Homo sapiens: one gene and its partners. The protein of the gene in region 4 interacts with the protein of the main gene of each other region in a biochemical or structural test. Each region holds a gene or a part of one and is shown on either strand. Other genes may lie near its edges.

Region 1 (5,215 bases), on a different chromosome or scaffold from region 4:
TGGTCCCTGTGGGCCAAGCCCGCCATACCTTCTTGCCAGCTTCGGAGCTGTGGCTGCCGGTGTGTGCCCAGTCTGGCTTCGGCTCCCAGGGGTCGTGGGCGGGTGGGAGCCCTCGCTGGGCCATCTCCTCGGTACAGGTCAGCTGCCGCCGGCGGAGCTCCTCATCTGTCTCCTGGTCCACCACCAGCAGCCGAGTCTGCCCCTCCACAGCCTTGATCCTTTGCACCACCTGGGGCGAATGGGCGATAGGAGCGGGTCAGTGGCCCACATTCCGGGCAGCACATGGGCAGTGGCACCACTCTGGGCTGGCCCAGGCGTGCGGACAGGCGGCTGGTCTGCATGGGCGGGTGGCTGCACCAAGAGGCCTGCCGGCCCCGCCCCCCACCCCCGGACTCCAGCGGCTCCCTCCCTCTGCACTCAGGCTCCGGACACTGAGGCCCAGGCTGTGAGGGCTTCAGGGTGCTCCCAGAGCCTTGCCCTTAGCCCAGGGTCTTCTCCAGGCGGGGCTGGGAAGGGGCTGCAGGATAGGGCCGCTGGGTAAGTCCTGTCTGGAAGTGACAAAAATGGTGCACAGTGGACCTTCAGGTTTTCAGTCTGCCTGTCCCTGTGCGCGCATGCATCCATCTGTTTCAAAGTCTGTGTCTCCGTCCAGGTTTGAAGGAGAGGTGTGTCTCCCTGGGCCCCAGTTTGAGTGTGTCTGTGCCCATTCCCGTCATTCTCTGCCGTGCAGTGTGGGAGTCTAAACTCCTGACCCTAGGCCTTATATCTACCTCCAGGCCATGGCCATGGGCCCATTCCCTCTGGATCTGCAGAGAGGGGAAGGGCTGGGCTCCTGGCTCGGGCACCCACACACAGCCAGGGAAGCAGGATTCAGGTGCAGCCGGCGAGGGGGAGAGGCAGGTGCACCTGTGGACAGCTGTGGCTTGGTGGCCGTCGGTGTGTGCGTGCAGGTGCCTGTGAAGTGTCTGGACCACGCGGGGGGCCAGCGCACACCCGCGGAGAGAAAGCAGTGCCCACTGGGAAGTGGGCAGGAAGAGGGGCAGCCCTACTCCCACCTGCGGCCTGGGGGAGGGTGGACAAGGCTCCCCACCAGCTGCCGGGCTCAGCAGGGGTGGTGAACAGATAGGAGGGACTGAGCCAGGCCCATCTTCCCCCAGCCCTCCTCTCTCCCCATGACCCAGAGTGAGACAAGAGGAACCCAGTGCCCAGCTGCTTCTTGACTATGTGTCCCAGACAAGTTACCCTCAATCTCTGGCATCAGTTTCCTCAACTGTCAAATGGGGCAGTAACTGCCCCTCTTGCCCTCCTGGGGCAGTGGGGAGAGTCCACCATGGTCTGTGTGTCCAGTCCTCAGAGACCAGCCCCACAGGGCCTTGGAAAAGCAGGTGTTCCCAGGGCGAGGGTGGCAGTGACTATCCAACAGCAGCCTGGCCCCAGCCCTGGCAGCCCTACCCTCAATCCCTCAGGTCCAGGCCCCTGGCCTGATCCCCACATTCTTCAGCAAACAACCTTACACAGCAGACACTCTGGGTGGAAGGCATGGGGCCGGCCGACAGAGTGACAGACAAGGCACCAGGTAAACAGGAGACCAGCTCCAGGTCCAGCTGAACCAACCTGCTAATCTCTAGGTTCCAGGACCAGCCATGTAGACAGGTTATGGATTCATCGGTGCTGTGAGGGACAGGGGACCTGGAGGAAAAGGGGTGTGTGGACGCTGGACCCCAACCAGGGTCTGGAGGGAGTCCCTGGCCTGTGGGAGACAGACACACCTCAGGGGTCAGAACCCACAGAGAAAAGGCTCTGTTCTCCTTAGCCAGGAGGCAGGAGGCTTCGGCCAGTAACCCCAGCCAGGCTAGGCAGCCTCTGAGGAGGAGTAGTGCCTTTGTAGCTAAGGAATGTGGTTGCCAGCAATGACCAACTCAGCCCGGTCCCAGACACACCAGCTGGGACACACTAGAGTACAGACACAAAGACTCACCGGCCTGCAGACAGTGATGAGTACACTAGCCAGGCGTGCACACACACAGAGCCCAGCTCCCATACGCCCAGGAGTCCAGACCTGCACACACACAGGCACACGTGCAGACCTGTATACTCACACACACACTACAGCACACACAGGTGCAGACACACTGATGCCTTTACTGCGACCCCTCCTGGGTACGCACAGGCAGGCGCATGCACACATGGCTGACCCCAAAGGGACCTGCATACACACGCCCAGCTGTGTTCACACGCACACGTGTACACACACACCCAGGCAAAAGCACCCAGGTCTTCACCTTTCCGGAGGGGCTCCAGGCGGCCCAACACCCTCCTTCACGGCACACTGAGGCCAAAACGCGACCAAAGGGCGAGGCCAGCGGCCAGGAGCCGCAGTGCGGGCCCCTCCCTGCCAGGATGCCCCCCCCCACCCCCGTGCAGGACTGAGCTTCCTGCGCCGGGACTCCGAAGGCGCCGGGCCGCTGCCTCCCGACAACGTCCGCGTCCTCCCCGCGGGAGCCCCCTCGGGCCCCCGTGCGACCCCTGCTCGCCCCAGGGGGACGCGCTCGGGGAGGGGGCGGCGGGCCGGGGGCGAGCGCTGGCCCCCACCTGGTGGTGCGTCTCGCCCTCCACGTTGACGCCGTTGACCTCGACCAGGCGGTCCCCAGCGCGCAGCGCGGCGGCCTCGGCGGGGGAACCGGGTTCCACGCGCCGGATGAACTGCCCGCGGCGGCCCTTCTCGCCGTGCAGGTGGAAGCCGTAGCCCTGCTCTCCGCGCACCAAGCGGCACAGGCGCGGCCGCAGCGGCTCCGGCGCGGCCATGGCGCCCGCTGCCCACCGGCCGCCCGCGGGCAGGGGCGCGGGGGAGCTCGGGGGCGGCGGCGGCGCTGGGCACCCGGCGGTGGCTTCAGCGGCGGCTCCTGTTCGGCTCCCGTCGCCTCGGGATCCGGCTCGGGCTCCGGCTCGGGCTGCGGCACCGCCTCCGCGCCCGCCCCTTCCCCGCCCCCGCCGCCCGGCCGCCCCCGCCTCCAGTCCCAGCCGTCCCGGCCAGGCCCCTACCTCCGCGCCCGGCCAGCCCGAGGCGGGGCAGGGGGAGGCGGCAGGGCTAGGGGACCCCTTAACCACCGGGACCTCTCTGTCTCGCCCCTACTCTGGGCAGCCGCCTTGGTGCCAGCGCCTTTGCCTTCTATCCCAGGAACATTTATTGGATACCTACTGTATGCGCAGCATCGAGGCAGGTCTTGAGGTGGGCGACGGGTTGGACAAAGGGTCTCCAGGCCAAGGGACCCCGACAAAGGGGCCAAAGGGTAAGAACAAGGGCCACAGCCCTCCCCACCCTCCCCGGGAAGCCCTTCCGGACCCCCTTGCCTGTCTCCTCTCGGCTGTGTCTCACCTGGATCCCTCCCAGCCAGTGGCTGGGAGACTCCCTGGCCCAGGGCAGAGTCTCAGGAGGGCCCAGGAGGCAAAAAGGGCTTTAAAAGTGACACGCAGCAGCCCCTCCCTGCATCCTGGGGGCCAGTGGCTGGGAGACTCCCTGGCCTACCCACCGTGTTCGGCCTATCTGCACCGCGTCGGTTCCCACGCCCTGCTGCCATTCTTTCCCTTGGCCGGGCCGGCCCCCTCACTTGTGTCCCAGCCCACCCCAGGCCTGGACTGTGACTTTGCAGGGTGACAAAAGGATATGAGTCTCGAGGGTCCCTGCTACCCACCTCCTGACATGGGCTACACTCCACTGAATTATTTGGGCTCTAAGCTCTGGGTGTGCACAGGCGCTGCTCCACAGTGTCCACAGGCAGGCAGCAGGCCTCCCCTCCCCTGCCCACAGCCGTCCACGTCCCTCAGCCTCTACCTGAAGCACGAGTGTCCCTCCTTCCCCAACAGGACAGTCACCACCACAGTGAAATCATTTAGGCCTAAGTGCATTTTACCTGGAACAACCCTAGGGGACCGGCCACTTCACAGACCTGCAAACAGGCCTGGAGAGGGAAAAGACCCACGAAGCCTCCTCAGCTCCATTTGGGCCCAGGGATGTGAGATTCGGAGTCCATGCTATCTTCACCACCCAGCTCTTCCTCTGTCTCCAATATAGGAAGGTAGCTGAGTCCAGGCACAGCCCCAGTCTGCCCTCCTCCCCAGCCCAGCCAGGCCCCCTTGCACATACCTGGTTCCCAGGGGTCAGGCACAGCCAGCCCAGGCAATTCCCCATGTGAGCCGTAGAAGCAGGCTTGGCGCAGTCCTCCTCTCCCTCTCGTCTCTCCGGGGCCCTGGGCTGGGCTCCCCTGCCCCCACCCAAGCACAGGGCTCGCCTCTGGGCAGCCTCCTGGGCCATGGCCCCCTGGGTGCCCATATCCCGGCAGCTGCCCCTAAAAGCCACTTAGGCTGAGGCGCCGCGACTGCTCGCCACCCCAACCCCTGCAATTCCTGGGTAAGGCTGCTTCAGGCTCCCGCCCGGCCGGCCGCTTCCATCTCTCTGTCTGCATGTCCAGAGGCTGCCTGTCTGGCCTGTGGCTGGCCTCCCTGGACACAGCCTGGTGCTGCCACCCTTGGAGTCTGTGAAGATGGCTGTGGGCAGTGTGACCCACCACCACGCACCCCACATACCACACCTGTTTGGGCTTAGGGGGTCATCCCACACCAACCAGGTCCACCCAAAACCTGGCAGGCTGTAGCTTCCTGGCCACACTAGAGTCGAGGGAGGTGGCTGGATGGGAGACTCCAGCAGCCCCAGGTCCCCTGGGTAAGGGGGCTTGCAGACCTTACCCGCCCTGGGTGGGGCAGACGCCTGATCAGCCTTGGGCATACACCATCCTTCCCTGGCCCAGGACTCAGCTGATTCCTACTCCCAGTGACTGAAGATGGGCTGAGGGGCCGGAGCAGTGGCTCACGCCTGTAATCCCAACACTCTGGGAGGCCGAGGTGGGTGGATCACCTGAGGTCAGGAGTTCGAGACCAGCCTGGCCAATGTGGCGAAACCCCGTCTCTACTGAAAATACAAAAAAAATTAGCCAGGCGTGGTGGTGGGCATCTGTAATCCCAGCTACTGGGGAGGTTGAGGCAGGAGAATCGCTTGAACCCAGGAGGCGGAGGTTGCAGTGAGCTGAGATTGCGTCACTGCACTCCAGCCTGGGCAACAGAGCTAGACACCATCTCAAAAACAATAAATAAATAATTTAAAAACAAATAAAAAAAAAAAGATGGGATGGAGAACAGCATGGCAGAGGGAGGGGCCACA
Region 2 (4,568 bases), on a different chromosome or scaffold from region 4:
CTTCCACCGTCTTCACACTGCTCTCCCTTACGGCAGGGGCTTAGGGAAGGAATGGGGGCAGCCGTATAGTGAAGCCACAAGCCTTTCTGCGCTGACTGATCTCTCTCTATCTTTTCTCTCTCTCCCCCTCTGACTGCCGCTCCAAAGTCGAGCTTCGATCCCCACCACCGTGCCCAGCCAAGTTACGAGCGTCCTTCTTTCCTGCCTCCAGGACCTGGGTTGATGCTCCGGCAAAAATCTATCGGTATGCCACCCAGAAGAAGAGATGTGGGGGCTGGGGGAGGCCAGGAACGTGACAGTTCAGGAAAAGCAAGCAGACTTGGAAATGTTCTGTGCTCCCAGAGAGACCATAGTTTCATCAAATTGGGTTAAGAGTTCAGGCTTTGGAAATGGGTGAACTTGGCCATGAATCCTGGCTCCCCTCCTTCCCAGCTGTGTGAACTGGGGCAGGTGGCTTGACTTCTCTGGGCCTCTGGCTCTACATCTGGAGAATGGGGATGCAGTGAGCTAAAGCCCCCGCTACAGCTTTCTGGTTGTTTCTCTTATACCCGATTCCATCCATTCATTCATTTTACAAGTGTTTACCAAGCGCTCCCCACATGCCAGGAATTGTTCTAGAATGGGGATACGTCAGCGAATAAAACAGACTAAAGGTTCCTGCCCTCATGGGCTTGCCTTATAGCAGGGGAAGACAGATAATGGATTATAAGGAAAATAAGCAAGAAAATTATCTAGTATGTTAGCAGTTGTACGTGCTATGGAAAACAAAAAAAAGAGTGGGCCGGGCGCAGCGGCTCACGCCTGTAATCCCAGCACTTTGGGAGGCCGAGGCAGGCAGATCACAAGGTCAGGAGATCGAGACCATCCTGGTTAACATGGTAAAATCCCATCTCTACTAAAAATACAAAAAATTAGCCGGGTGTGGTGGCGGGCACCTGTAGTCCCAGCTACTCAGGAGGCTGAGGCAGGAGAATGGCGTGAACCCGGAAGGCAGAGCTTGCAGTGAGCCGAGAACGTGCCACTGCACTCCAGCCTGGGCGACAGAGCAACCCTCTGTCTCAAAAAAAAAAAAAAAAAAAAAGAGTGAAAAAAAATAATGGAGTAAGGTAAGAGAGATAGGGAGTGCTGGGTAGGGGGCAGGGTGCAGGTTTGAGCTAAAACCTATAGATGGGCCAGGCACAGTGGCTCACACGTGTAATCCCAGCACTTTGGGAGGCCGAGGCAGGCGGATCACAAGGTCAGGAGTTCAAGACCAGCCTGACCAACATGATGAAACCCCATTTCTACTAAAAATACAAAAATTAGCCAAGCGTGGTGGCATGTGCCTGTAATCCCAGCTACTCAGGAGGCTGAGGCAGGAGAATAGCTTGAACCCGAGAGGCAGAGGTTGCAGTGAGCAAAGATCGCACCATTGCACTCCAGCCTGGGCGACAGAGCGAGACTCTGTCTCAAAAAAAAAGAAAAGAAAAAAAAACACCTAGAGATGAAGTGGGGAATCGTGAGGCTCCCTGGGGTTGAGGCATTCCAGGCAGAGCGAACTACCTCTGCAAAGGTCCTGAGGTCGGGCTGAGTCTGGTGCGTTTACAGAACAGGGAGGAGGCCTGTGTAGCAGGGGCCAAGTGAGCACTGGACATGAGGGCAGTGGGGGGACAGGGTCCCGATCCTGCAGGGTCTGGGGAGTCATGGTGAGGACTTGAACCTTTGCCCTGAGTGAGGTGAGTGAATGGCAGGGCTCTAAGCAGAGGAGGGACATGAGCTGACTTCGGTTTTAACAGAAACCCTCTGGCTGCTGTGAAGGGACTAGATTGAAGGGGATGAGCTGGGAAGCCGGGGGACCAAAGAGGAGGTGACAGCTATTGCTATCCAGATAGGAAATGATAGTGGCTGGCCCAGGGTGTTGACTCTGGAGGGGTGAGAAGGGATTGGATTCCGGATATGTTTTGAAACAACAGGATTTGCTGGTGGATTGGATGTGGGTGACTTGAGGAAGAAAGCTAAGAGTGGCTGCAAGGTTTTCAGTCTTAGCACCTGAAAGGACAGAGCTGCTGTTTGCTGCGGTGGTGGGGAGGGACCGTGGGCTGGGAGGAGTCTGTTGGTGAGGAGATCAGGAGCTTGGGTTGGAGCGTTTGGAGTCTGAGATGCCCGTGAGACAGCCAGCTGGGTGTGGGTATTTGAATATAGGGGCCCAGAGCTCAGGGCGGAGGATGGGGCCCCAGGCATAAACGTGGGCGTCGACAGCAGAAAGGCAGTGAATGAAGCTGGTCACTAGTTGAGAGGGAGTAGTCAGAGGTGAGAAGAGGTTCAAAGACCGAGCCTTGGCAGTGAAGTAAGCAAAGACTTAACTCCTGCACGCCTCCTGGAGTTGTTTTTCCCTGATTGGATTCAGCTTTCCCCAACTCCTGGCGTTCAAAGTCCACCAGTGTGAGTCTTACACTCCCACTGAGTGTGGGGTCCACCTGGCTCGCATCGTTTACCTGATTTTTTTTTTTATAGATCCAATCCCTTTTAAACTTTAGCCTCATCATAAGTGGTTCTCTCTGTAGAATCACAGCTTTGATGTGCTGGTTGCATTTCTTTCCCGCATATACGTGAAAAGAAACACGCATCTATGCATAAACACGAGGGGACTATCCCTTCCCAGCTCCAGCCACTTTTGCTGGCCCCAAACCGTTCACTGAGCCTTTGAACGGAATTAGAAAATGGCGCCCCCTCCTGGCGTGGGGAGGAAGTTCTGCTGAATTTCAGTTTCCTCACCTTCCTTGCGGTTTGCAGTTGTGCAGTGCACAACCTGTACCTCTGTATGAAGCAGATTTGGGTTTACCTCAAATAGGGAAGAGCTGGGCGAGTCCACGTGAAGTTCCTGGCATATACGGGGTGCCATTCTTGTCATTAGTATTGTTGCGGTTCTATGGGATAGTGGAGCAGGGAGACCCTCCCCGCCAGGGTCCCCCTCCTTGAGCCTCTGTATCTCCCCAGGTGCGGCAGAAGATGACAGACCTTACCTAGCACCCCCAGCCATGAAATTCAGCCGCAGCCTGTCTGTGCCTGGTTCGGAGGACATTCCCCCGCCACCCACCACGTCCCCACCGGAGCCTCCCTACAGCACACCTCCAGTCCCCTCCTCCTCAGGGCGCCTCACCCCCTCCCCTCGGGGAGGGCCCTTCAACCCTGGCTCTGGTGGCCCCCTCCCCGCCTCCTCCCCTGCATCCTTTGACGGGCCCTCCCCTCCCGACACTCGCGTGGGGAGCCGCGAGAAGAGCCTGTACCACAGTGGGCCCCTGCCCCCGGCCCACCACCACCCGCCCCACCACCACCACCACCACGCCCCGCCCCCTCAGCCCCACCACCACCACGCCCACCCCCCTCATCCTCCCGAGATGGAGACAGGCGGCTCTCCCGACGACCCTCCACCCCGCCTGGCTCTGGGGCCCCAGCCCAGCCTGCGAGGCTGGAGGGGCGGCGGGCCCAGCCCGACCCCGGGGGCCCCGTCCCCATCGCACCACGGCAGCGCGGGCGGGGGCGGCGGCTCCTCCCAGGGCCCGGCTCTACGCTATTTCCAGCTGCCCCCGCGGGCGGCCAGCGCAGCCATGTACGTGCCCGCCCGCTCGGGCCGCGGCCGCAAGGGCCCGCTGGTCAAGCAGACCAAGGTGGAAGGCGAGCCCCAGAAGGGCGGCGGCCTCCCGCCCGCGCCGTCGCCCACGTCCCCGGCCTCCCCGCAGCCGCCGCCCGCCGTGGCCGCGCCCTCGGAGAAGAACTCCATCCCCATCCCCACCATCATCATCAAGGCCCCGTCCACCAGTAGCAGCGGCCGCAGCAGCCAGGGCAGCAGCACCGAGGCGGAGCCCCCCACCCAGCCGGAGCCCACGGGAGGCGGCGGCGGCGGCGGCTCCTCGCCCAGCCCCGCCCCGGCCATGTCACCCGTGCCCCCGTCCCCCTCGCCCGTGCCCACCCCCGCCTCGCCCAGCGGCCCGGCCACGCTGGACTTCACGAGCCAGTTCGGGGCCGCCCTGGTGGGGGCGGCCCGGAGGGAGGGGGGCTGGCAGAATGAGGCGCGCCGGCGCTCCACGCTGTTCCTGTCCACCGACGCGGGGGACGAGGACGGCGGGGACGGCGGGCTGGGCACAGGGGCGGCCCCGGGCCCGCGGCTGCGCCACTCCAAATCCATCGACGAGGGCATGTTCTCCGCCGAGCCCTACCTCCGACTGGAGTCTGCGGGCAGCGGCGCGGGCTACGGCGGCTACGGGGCCGGTAGCCGAGCCTACGGGGGTGGCGGGGGCAGCAGCGCCTTCACCAGCTTCCTGCCCCCGCGACCCCTGGTGCACCCGCTGACCGGCAAGGCCCTGGATCCCGCCTCCCCGCTGGGGCTGGCCCTGGCCGCCCGCGAGCGAGCGCTGAAGGAGTCCTCGGAGGGCGGCGGGGCCCCCCAGCCGCCTCCCAGGCCCCCATCGCCCCGCTACGAGGCCCCGCCGCCCACCCCGCACCACCACTCGCCCCACGCCCACCACGAGCCAGTGCTGCGTCTCTGGGGGGCCTCCCCGCCGGACCCTGCGCGCCGGGAGCTGGGGTAC
Region 3 (4,568 bases), on a different chromosome or scaffold from region 4:
AGGTCAGCCGGGCGTGGCGGCTCACGCCTGTAATCGCAGCACTTTGGGAGGCCAAGGCGCGTGGATCACAAGGTCAGGAGATCGAGACCATCCTGGCTAACATGGTGAAACCCCATCTCTACTAAAAATACAAACAATTAGCCAGGCGCGGTGGCGGGTGCCTGTAGTCCCAGCTGCTGGGGAGGCTGAGGCAGGAGAATGGCATAAACCCGGGAGGCGGAGCTTGCAGTGAGCCAAGATCACGCCACTGCACCCCAGCCTGGGCAACAGAGGGGAGATTCCATCTCAAAAAAAAAAAAAAAAGAAAAAAGAAACGAAGGTCTTCGGGGTGGCTGGAGTGTGACATGTGAGGGGCCAGGCGATCAGAGAGGAGACTGGAAAGGCCTCACAGTCCATGGTGGAAAGTTTGGATTTCATCCCATGGGCACGGGAAGTCATTCAAAGGTTTTAAACAAGGCGGGAAGGGGTTCCAGCAATCGCTGTAGGTCACGTTACTCCTTTCGGATGTTCAGCGCACAGCTCTTTCTGTTACAGCACACTGACTACCGATGCTGTCTTTATCTAGTGTCGATTTCACATTTGTTTCAGCCTGACCAATGCGTTTTAGTTCAATCTACAACTAGAACTGAGAACAGCTGCTTACATCACCATTCTTTCTCCCTTGATTTTATAAACTTTTCTGAGAATATGTATTCTCAACCATTTACACAAGGTCTATGTTTCAGCTTTGCACCGTTTTAAAATCTCTGGAGAAGGGGCGGAGTGTGGAGGAGGTGGTAGCTGAGGAGATTCAGGGCAAGGAGTAGGTGGTGAGAGAGAAGGAGCACTGAACACATACAGCTGCAGTGGTGACAGGCTCTGGGAACCCTGATGGCTGTTTACAGGAACATTAGAGTTCCTCTTGTAAAGCCCACTTGTAAAGCAACACATCTTTGCGGAATATGTAAATTACCTTGCCTGGCTTCATTTGGTTTAATTGAGTCTCCTTAAATTGGAAGCATACCTTCCTCTTTTATTTACCAATCCTGTGAAAGCAGATTTACCTCGAATTTACATTTCTGCTGAGTGTCTAAATCAGTTATGGATTTTAAAAGACTATAAGTCCCCAGCTGTCCCACAGATTACTAGATGCTACTTTGTCTTGGCAAGGCTGGCTCCTTGTCACTCCGGTCTCACCTCCAATGCCACTCCCTCAGAGGGTCCTTGGCCACCCCCCTGATCTAAAGTAGACCCCAGTCACTCTCTTTCTTAACCCTTTTTCCATTTTTAAAAATTTTCTCCCTTGAATTTATGCTACTATTAATAAGGTTTTTACTTCCAGCCTTCCAGCAAGTGTGCAACATGATACAGAGCCTGGAGCTCAGGGTTGCACATCGTGAAGCCACCCTTTAGTAGGAGTCCCCTAGCGTGAATGACAGTTTTGCAGCTGAAACCCACACAAAGAGGAGGAGGGATGAGGCAGGAGGACCTGTACTCACCCAGACCCACTCTGGACTATAGTTTTCCATTTCTGCCACGGCACTTACTGCTATCTGCACTGATTTTATCTGTTCACTTTTGAATGTCCCTCCCACTAGGACATAAGCTCTATGGGGACAGGGATGGTGCCTGTCTCGTTTACCGTGTACTCCTGAAGTTAGCACAGATGGTATGCTGTATTTAGGTGAATGAATGCCTTGCAATGGTGTGAGCTGATAAGGTGATAAATCTATTCTAGAAGCTTTAAGGAGGATTCATTCTCTTTGTGGGAAGGTCAAACAGGTCAGCCCAGGGAAGTACAACTGGCTTTAAAGAGCCTGATGTCCCTTTCATTATTTTCTTCTAATGGACTGTGCTGAGAAGCAAATGCTCAACACAGTCAATGAAGGAAAATATGACTTTTTCCTCCCCAATTTTCTTTGTTCCTGACCCCTTTAACATAGCTAGGAAAGGCCACTGCAATACCATGGATATTGGTAAACACACATGAAACTAGTCCCTTGAATGATTTCAAAACATAAATTGGAATTTAATGAAAGAAATAAAAGAAGGTGGTTAAAGAAATTTTGAGAATGTGACAAGAGAAGAAATACAACACTTCTCCCCACAAAGACAGCAAGCTCAACACCGACTGGATTGACTGGCAGTGTAGGCTGGTTTTTTATAACATCACATAGAGTTCTCTAGTTACAGCAGAAAAACTATGTTTGGCTTGGCAAAAGAAGAAAAAGATATTTTTTCTTCCCCCAAAGAACAGAGGACTCTCCAGGAACAACGGCTTCTGGTCTCTTTTCAGCTGATAAGGATGATGGCATGTGGAGCTGGGTGCCTGGAGTTGGGCGTCTATGTCGATTTGCCCAGAGCAGCCTGAGACTCCCAAATTCCAGTGGAAAGATCACTGTTTTCGTTTGGCACAGAAAGTCAGCAGGTTGAACTAAAGTCTGTCATTTTTGGTTTTCTGTTGTTTTATTTTCAGTTTAGTGCATTACAATCCAAGGAAAAGAGTTAAAAGCCAGATGAAAATGGGAGGAGGAAAAGCTACAACAATCAATTATCTCCAGGGGAAAAAATATCTATCTGGAAGTAAGAAAACAGATGTATACCAAAGAGAAAAGCATGTGCAGAGAAACAGCACTGCAGGAAGAAGGATAGGGTAGCAAAGTTGACAGCACAAAGCCCATCTTCTGGCCACCCTTTCCCCTGGGGAAAAAGGATGTGGAGTAGGCCATTCCCCTTACCTCCTCTGCAGTGACCATGGCAATCACATTCACTCCCTGCTCCCACACCATCTGCCAGAAGTCGTGGCACGTGTGTGGCAGGGGCCCCTGGGTGGCTATGTAGTGCCATTCTGCCCCGCCAACCACCACCTAAAAACCAAGAAAAGTATCGGTAAATAAACCCCAAGTCCGGACAACATTACCTGCTGATCACCTGTCCATCTGTATCCACCTTAAAACCTTGGATATATTTTTGGGGCCGAATGAATTAGTTCAATGAACAAAAACCCTGAGACTACAGAGGCTAGTGTAGTGACACATTCTCACATGAAAATACTTTTTGCCACTCAAGCCTATTAAATATTTATCTAATCCTGGTTTTTGAGACTGAGTCTTGCTCTGCTGCTTAGGCGGGAGTACAGTGGCACGATCTTGGCTCACTGCAACCTCCGCCTCCTGGGTTCAAGCAATTCTCCCGTCTCAGAATCCCAAGGAGCTGGGATTACAGGCACTCGCCATCATGCCCGGCTAATTTTTGTATTTTTGTAGAGATGGCGTTTCACCACATTGGCCAGGCTGGTCTTGAACTCCTGACTTCAGGTGATACGCCCATCTCAGCCTCCCAAAGTGCTGGGATTACAGGCCTGAGCCACCAGGCTTGGCCTTTACCTGATCTTTGTTTGCAACTCACAGTATATGCAAACTAGTGCCTATTAAAAACCATACACATACACACATGTATAGATGCATATATATGAACATGTATAACTTAGGATTTACTTGTTACAGAAATAATAGTTACTGCTTACTATGTGCAATGTACTCTAACACTTTCCATTCTTTTCTCTTTTCTAGTCGATTTCATTGAAACACACACACACACACACACACACACACACACACACACACACACACACACCTGGTCATGACCACTAAACTGATTTCACATTCTACCACTGTGTTGTAATCCAGTTTGAAAAGCAGTGCTTCATGGCATCCAATTAAACAATAAAAAAAAAAAAAAAGATCATGAAACAACATCCCTTTTGGAGCACTATCTTTCTCCTGTGGATCTGAGATGAAGTGTATCATAAACCTCTGCTGTCACTGCTGCTCTGTGGTGCCATGCACGGCAGAGATGCTACGAATGCTCTTGTCAACAGCATATATTTTATCAATAGCTTCACCTTGGTAGTACCACAGCATCCAACTGAACTACAGTCATGACATGACTTTGGATAATAAAATTATTACCCCTGCAGCTCAGGGTGATCAGGGGAAGATAATTCTACAGCTATAAATACTAGCTGCTGAGAACCATAAATAAGAAGTTGTACCCAAAGTGTTAAAGGTCATGCTGTCAAGGTGAAATGGTGGCCTTTGGAGGAATTCTTTCTGTTCTCCCTTCCAGGTCTGTGCCTTGATATTGCAAAGTCAGGTCCCTTCTACATCTATACAATGCAGATCTCTGGAGAGTTCAAAAAGTAATGAAGTAATCATTGTTTGAAACTTTTTCCCCTCATTTATTTGATAAAACTGTATGCTAACTTGGTTCAAACAAAAACAATGTAAGTTATTGTCTCATTACACAAGGCATGTTTAGGTCAAAGCTGGCAAGAAAAATCCATTTTCCAAATACTGGTGGGAGATAACATTCATATATTTGCTGGCTAGGAGTTTGGTTTATCCGTGGAATTGTGATTTTAAACATTAGCCTCTCTGGCACCCAACGTATAGGAAACATAAATACTTCCAGAGAATGCTGCTGCTGCCTGGGGCCTTTCAGTATATTCCAAGTATTGACAGAAGGGTATTAAAAACTGCATTAAAAACACAACAAGCAGTGCTGCTGAGGTAGATTTCACACATGTG
Region 4 (5,228 bases):
AGTGCTGGGATTACAGACGTGAGCCACCGCGCCCGGCCCTAAAAAAATAATTCTTAAAGTTTGCTTTTACTCGACAACTCTTATATGGTTTTGTGTGTTTGGAACCCCCCGACCCCCTCCCCCGCCAAAAAAAAAGAAGTAGGAAGAATAGCATCTGATGATTTTACTATAAGACACCAATCCTTCCCCAACCCCCAACACTATTTCACACTTTGCTATTAAATGTCTCATTTTGACTTTAGGTTTTTCTATCCTGAGCTGGATAGAATATGTTCCATCCTCTAGCAGGGAGAGAGGAGGAAAATGAAAAAAAGACATCAGAAGTTAAAACACAAACCCAAGGCTTCTCCACCACAAACATAATATTTAAAATGGGGTAAAATTTCTTCAGGGTCATCCAACAATTTCTCAGCAGGATTCTCCCTGTAAACCTGAGCAAAGGCTGTAGGTTGCTACTCTGATGGTTGCAGAAGGCCTGCCTTCAAGGGCTTCCAAACCTCCCAGGTTTCAGCCTGTATTTGCCCAGGACCTCAAAAACAGTTCATCTCACTGTGACCCATCCGTAGCACACTCATTACTACTCTGTCCTTTTTCTCTCCTTTATCTGTTCACTGTTTCTTACCCTCCTAAGAATTTTCACTGTGCCTCTCCACCTATCGTAAACATCATCTCTACTAGACCATCAGCTTTCTTTCCCTCTACTTTTTGGGTTTGATTTGAAATACATACAGTTTCTTATCACAAAGGATACTGGCCTGACTCCGTCATCCTTCCACACAGCTTTCTGAGCCAAGTCTGCTCACTGAGGCACGGCCCCACCATCTCCAGCCCTCACCTCCACAATCGCCATGGGGTCCTGAAGTATGGAAAGCTTCTCCTAGCTCTACGCTGCCACTTCTAAACTACAATTCTCCTGCATGCAAATACCACTTATTTTTCTTTAGGTTTATGCCTTCTGGATATACCATCCTTTAAACCAGAGTTTCTTAACCAGCGGACCATGACAGAATTCAGAGAGTCTCTGAACTTCAATGGGGTAAAAAAAAAAAAATTACACATTAACTTTCGCTAAATTTGTCAACATTTTCTCCAATGTAGTATGCACCATTAGTATTCACTGTACCTAACTTTTCACCAATAGAACATATAAATGTTTTCATATCACATTGTAGTTGTTGCAAATATTTTAAAATACCATTTATGATCATTGCTATTTCAATGCTACAGTAGTTACGTTATAAGATGTGCTTCTAGATTTTTTTTTTTTTTAATCTTTTTGAGACAGGGTCTCACTCTGTCACCCAATCTGGAATGCAGTGATGCAATTATAGCTCACTGCAGCCTTGACCTTCTAGGCTCAAGTGATCCTCCTGCCTCAGCCTCATGAGTAGCTGCAGCCACAGAGGCACACCACCATACCCAGCTAATTTTTTGTATTTTTGTAGAGACAGGGTTTTGCCATGTTGCCCAGCTGGTCTCAATCTCCCAGGCTCAGATGATCTACCCTCCTTGGCCGCCCAAAGTGCTGGCATTACAAGCATAGGCCACTGCACCCAGCCTTAGATCTTGTTATTTATACATTAAAAAGAAGCACGTTATATCACAAGTTTCTATTTAATATTTTCTTAACTGTATCAATGAAATTCCTTTTCTTTTCAATCCTGTACTTTAAAAAAAAACAAACACCAATGTCCTGAGAGGGAACCTAGGGACTTGGCCAAATGCCAAAATTGTTTGCCTGTCTTCCCTGCAAGGTAAACTGCTTCTTGTACTCAAATTTACTGATCTCTTCGTTACTCCATCTTATATACGGGAAAATTCTGGAGTCTGGTCAAAGCCTCTTGCCACTCCAAGTATTCTCCATGCCTCTTAACATGCTTCAGTATTAAATGGACAATTCACTTAACCTGACAGCTTCCTGAACCTTCTGGATTCCAGTGACCTTCATCTCCACTCCACTCAAACACCCATTGCACAGCCACTAAGATCCTGTTATTTGAAACCAAACCAACTCTAAAATCTTAAGTCATGTTTTGAGACGATGATCAGTGTTTCTCTTCATTCCAACTGCATTCATCACATTGGAATTATGACCTCCATGCATAAAACCCATATAATAACCCATTGTTGAAATGCCGGGATCGCCTTTACACCGAAATGATACTGACCACTTCATCACTGTATTTCAATCATTAATTCCCTCAGTCATACCCAAGAACTGGCTTAGAAACTTCTCTCCCCAAAATCTTACATGCACTTATTTTACTTTCTCACATTTTTTTCTAACCAGTTCCTGCATAGACTCATGTCCACTCTACCAGCCCTCCAACCTCAGAGACTCCAGACCCATCTCTCCTTACTAGTCTAGTCTATTGGCTGTCTTTTGGTATCTTATTTTTTTTTCTCCTTCCCTACAAGCTTAAATTCATGACTGATCATTCAAAACAGCATAAGCACCTTTTAGATTCCTGATGTACATATAATTTTATCTCAGCCCAGCAAATCCCAACCCCAAAGCAATGCCAAAGTGTATTTGTTCCATTTTCATTCTGAGATTGCTGAGAAATGCTAAGGGAAAAGAAAAAAAAGAAATCACATAACTATCCAGAATGTTATCATTACAAATTAAAGGTCTTTGGTTTTGGATGGACCCTAGTACCACTTATTGGTTTTTTTGTTTTGTTTTGTTCTTGGTCAGTTGTTTTTCACATCCTCATGGTCACTACTCCAAATATGGCATACTATCTCAAGCCCCTATTCAGGGAAGTCCATTTCTTTTCTTTTCTCTTCCTCCAAATTTTTTTGTAGAGACAAGGTCTCACTATATGTCGCCCAGGCTGGTCTTAACACCTGAGCTCAAGCGATTGGCCTCCCAAAGTGTTAGGATTACAGGCGTGAGCCACCATGCCCAGCCAGTGAAGTCCATGTCTATTTCTTTTCCATCTACATTAGAACACTGAGGCCATTGGCTGGGTGTGGTGGCTCACGCCTGTAATCCCAGCACTTTGGGAGGCTGAGGTGGGCGGATCATTTGAGGTCAGGAGTTGGAGACCAGCCTGACCAACATGGTGAAACCCCGTCTCTACTGAAAATATAAAAAAATTAGCCAGGCGTGGTGGCGTATGCCTGTAGTCCCAGCTACTCAGGAAGCTGAGGTTGCAGTGAGCTGAGATTGCGCCACTGCACTCCAGCCTAGGTGACAGAGCGAGACTCTGTCTCAAAACAAAAAACAAAAAACAAAACAAACAAAAAAAACCAGGTCATCAGGTATAATCTTTGATTTTTCTGGCCCCTCTTGCCACCTCTTCCTGCTTGCCTCAAAAGTAACTTCATTTATACTCATCATCTTTTTAACTTTTCTTGCAGTCTTATGGGGATCCCTCTTATTTCTTTTCTATCTTCTACTTTTGACTCCTCCCATGCTCATCTTACAAAGTGAGAAGTGACTTTAAAACAGTGATACTACACTCATTGTAGTCTGTCTGTGGGAGGACACATCCTCTCAATACCATGCCTTTCTTCCGTATTATTTAAGACCTGGTGAAGGCACTACCTTTTTGAAGAAACTCTCCGTGGTGATCCCATCTCGATCTTGAGATTGGATTAGACACAGACATGTCATGTCTTTAACATCCTGAACACAGCACTTATCACAAAATATCGTAATTATTTTTGCTGTACCCCCTAAGGCCAGAGTGAATGAATTACTCTGGAGCATAAAACAACTTAAAATTCCTTGAAGAATTTATTTTGCTCTTAAAATATGAGGATGTATTTAACAATAAACTTTAAAATGAATAAAATTATAGACTCCAGAAAAGGCTGATGCCTAGGGTTCTGTGACAAACATGGGAGTATTGGAGAATATTCTAAAGACTCTCATTTGCTTTTTATCAAAGAAGGTATGCTCCTGTTTGTAGCACAAAACAAATATATAACACTAAACTGTAAGTCATAACTAAAATAACTGAATTGGCTATAATTTTCATATTATTTTTACAACTTTTTATTTTAGCCTTTTAAATAAAATTCCTACTTTTTATTAGGTTAAAACTAGTATCATGTGCAGACTAGACTCTCCATGTTCTTGCTGCTTTGAATTTGGCCACTATGTTTGTTAAAAGCCGTGAAATTTTTACTTTTTACTTCATTTAACAACTGAATTTCTATGTCAGCAGACACTGCAGAACCAACTATGCAGATTTATAAAGAAAGATAACTTAGAGATGTCAGTAAGCAGGGAAATCATTCCAAGTTACCTAAGGAGATATCCGACCCCTTGAAGGGCTATGGAAACACTCTTCTCATTAAACCTATATTTGAGCCATGACTAACAGTAACTAACCTAAGGATTCACCTAAATTAGACTTGAAAGAATCAATGAAAAAAAGACACTTTACTTACTGGTGGCAGGAGTGTATTATTAATCAAATAGGGAAGAATTTGGCATGAAAACAAATATAGTTAGCCTTTCATATCCGTAAGGCAACCAAGTATGGATCGAAATATTCGAGAAGAAAAATGGAAGGCTGTGTCTGTACTTAACATATATAGACTATTTTTCTTGCCATTATTCCCAATACAGAATGACAACACAGTTATAACAGTGTAACAGCTCTTTACATAGCATTTCCATTGTATTATAAGTAATCTAGAAATGATTTAAGGTATACAGGAGGATGTGTGTAGGTTATATGCAAATAGCATGCCATTTTATATAAGGGACTTGCTGGAACCAATCCCCCAAGGGATGACTCTAATGTAACAAGGCCAATGATACAAATAACATATATGCAGATTATGGATAGCATACTAAAGGTATAAATACTCAGCTGAGTTTTGAAACTTTTAGTTACAGGTGATTAGATATTCCAAGTAAATTTTGAAAAGCTTTTTGATATATAACGGATATACAATAAATTATAAAGTGCATAAATTGATGAGTTTTGACATGTGTGTACACCTGTGAAGCTGCCACTACAATCAAGATAATCATCCTCAGCCGGGTGCAGTGGCTCACACCTGTAATCCCAGCACTTTGGGAGGGTGAGGTGGGCAGATCACCTGAGGTTGGGAGTTCGAGACCAGCCTGACCAACATGGAGAAACCCCGTCTCTACTAAAAATACAAAAAATTAGCTGGGTGTGATGGCAGGTGCCTGTAATTCAAGCTACTCGGGAGGACTTGGGAGGCTGGGGCAGGAGAATCGCTTGAACCCGGGAGGCAGA

Evidence for each region. Proteins that work in one complex are often made in the same cells at the same time.
Region 1: the proteins of YAP1 (region 4) and NHERF2 form a complex in vitro, tested with the Homo sapiens proteins (2 studies listed by IntAct, with this or other methods).
Region 2: the proteins of YAP1 (region 4) and SHANK1 interact in a test that uses a peptide from one of them, tested with the Homo sapiens proteins (2 studies listed by IntAct, with this or other methods).
Region 3: the proteins of YAP1 (region 4) and PTPN14 form a complex in vitro, tested with the Homo sapiens proteins (3 studies listed by BioGRID and IntAct, with this or other methods).

What each region holds. Positions count from the first base shown.
Region 1 is NC_000016.10:2,024,596-2,029,810, reverse strand, and holds the start of NHERF2 (Na(+)/H(+) exchange regulatory cofactor NHE-RF2), read right to left. Parts: upstream 2,910-5,215; 5' UTR 2,806-2,909; coding exon 2,593-2,805; intron 1,636-2,592; exon of another isoform or gene 1,615-1,635; intron 230-1,614; coding exon 29-229; intron 1-28.
Region 2 is NC_000019.10:50,667,694-50,672,261, reverse strand, and holds part of SHANK1 (SH3 and multiple ankyrin repeat domains protein 1), read left to right. Parts: intron 1-147; coding exon 148-244; intron 245-2,976; coding exon 2,977-4,568. UniProt on the Homo sapiens protein: Seems to be an adapter protein in the postsynaptic density (PSD) of excitatory synapses that interconnects receptors of the postsynaptic membrane including NMDA-type and metabotropic glutamate receptors via complexes with GKAP/PSD-95 and Homer, respectively, and the actin-based cytoskeleton.
Region 3 is NC_000001.11:214,369,994-214,374,561, forward strand, and holds part of PTPN14 (tyrosine-protein phosphatase non-receptor type 14), read right to left. Parts: intron 2,847-4,568; coding exon 2,718-2,846; intron 1-2,717. UniProt on the Homo sapiens protein: Protein tyrosine phosphatase which may play a role in the regulation of lymphangiogenesis, cell-cell adhesion, cell-matrix adhesion, cell migration, cell growth and also regulates TGF-beta gene expression, thereby modulating epithelial-mesenchymal transition.
Region 4 is NC_000011.10:102,217,773-102,223,000, reverse strand, and holds part of YAP1 (transcriptional coactivator YAP1), read right to left. Parts: intron 1-5,228. UniProt on the Homo sapiens protein: Transcriptional regulator with dual roles as a coactivator and corepressor. Critical downstream regulatory target in the Hippo signaling pathway, crucial for organ size control and tumor suppression by restricting proliferation and promoting apoptosis.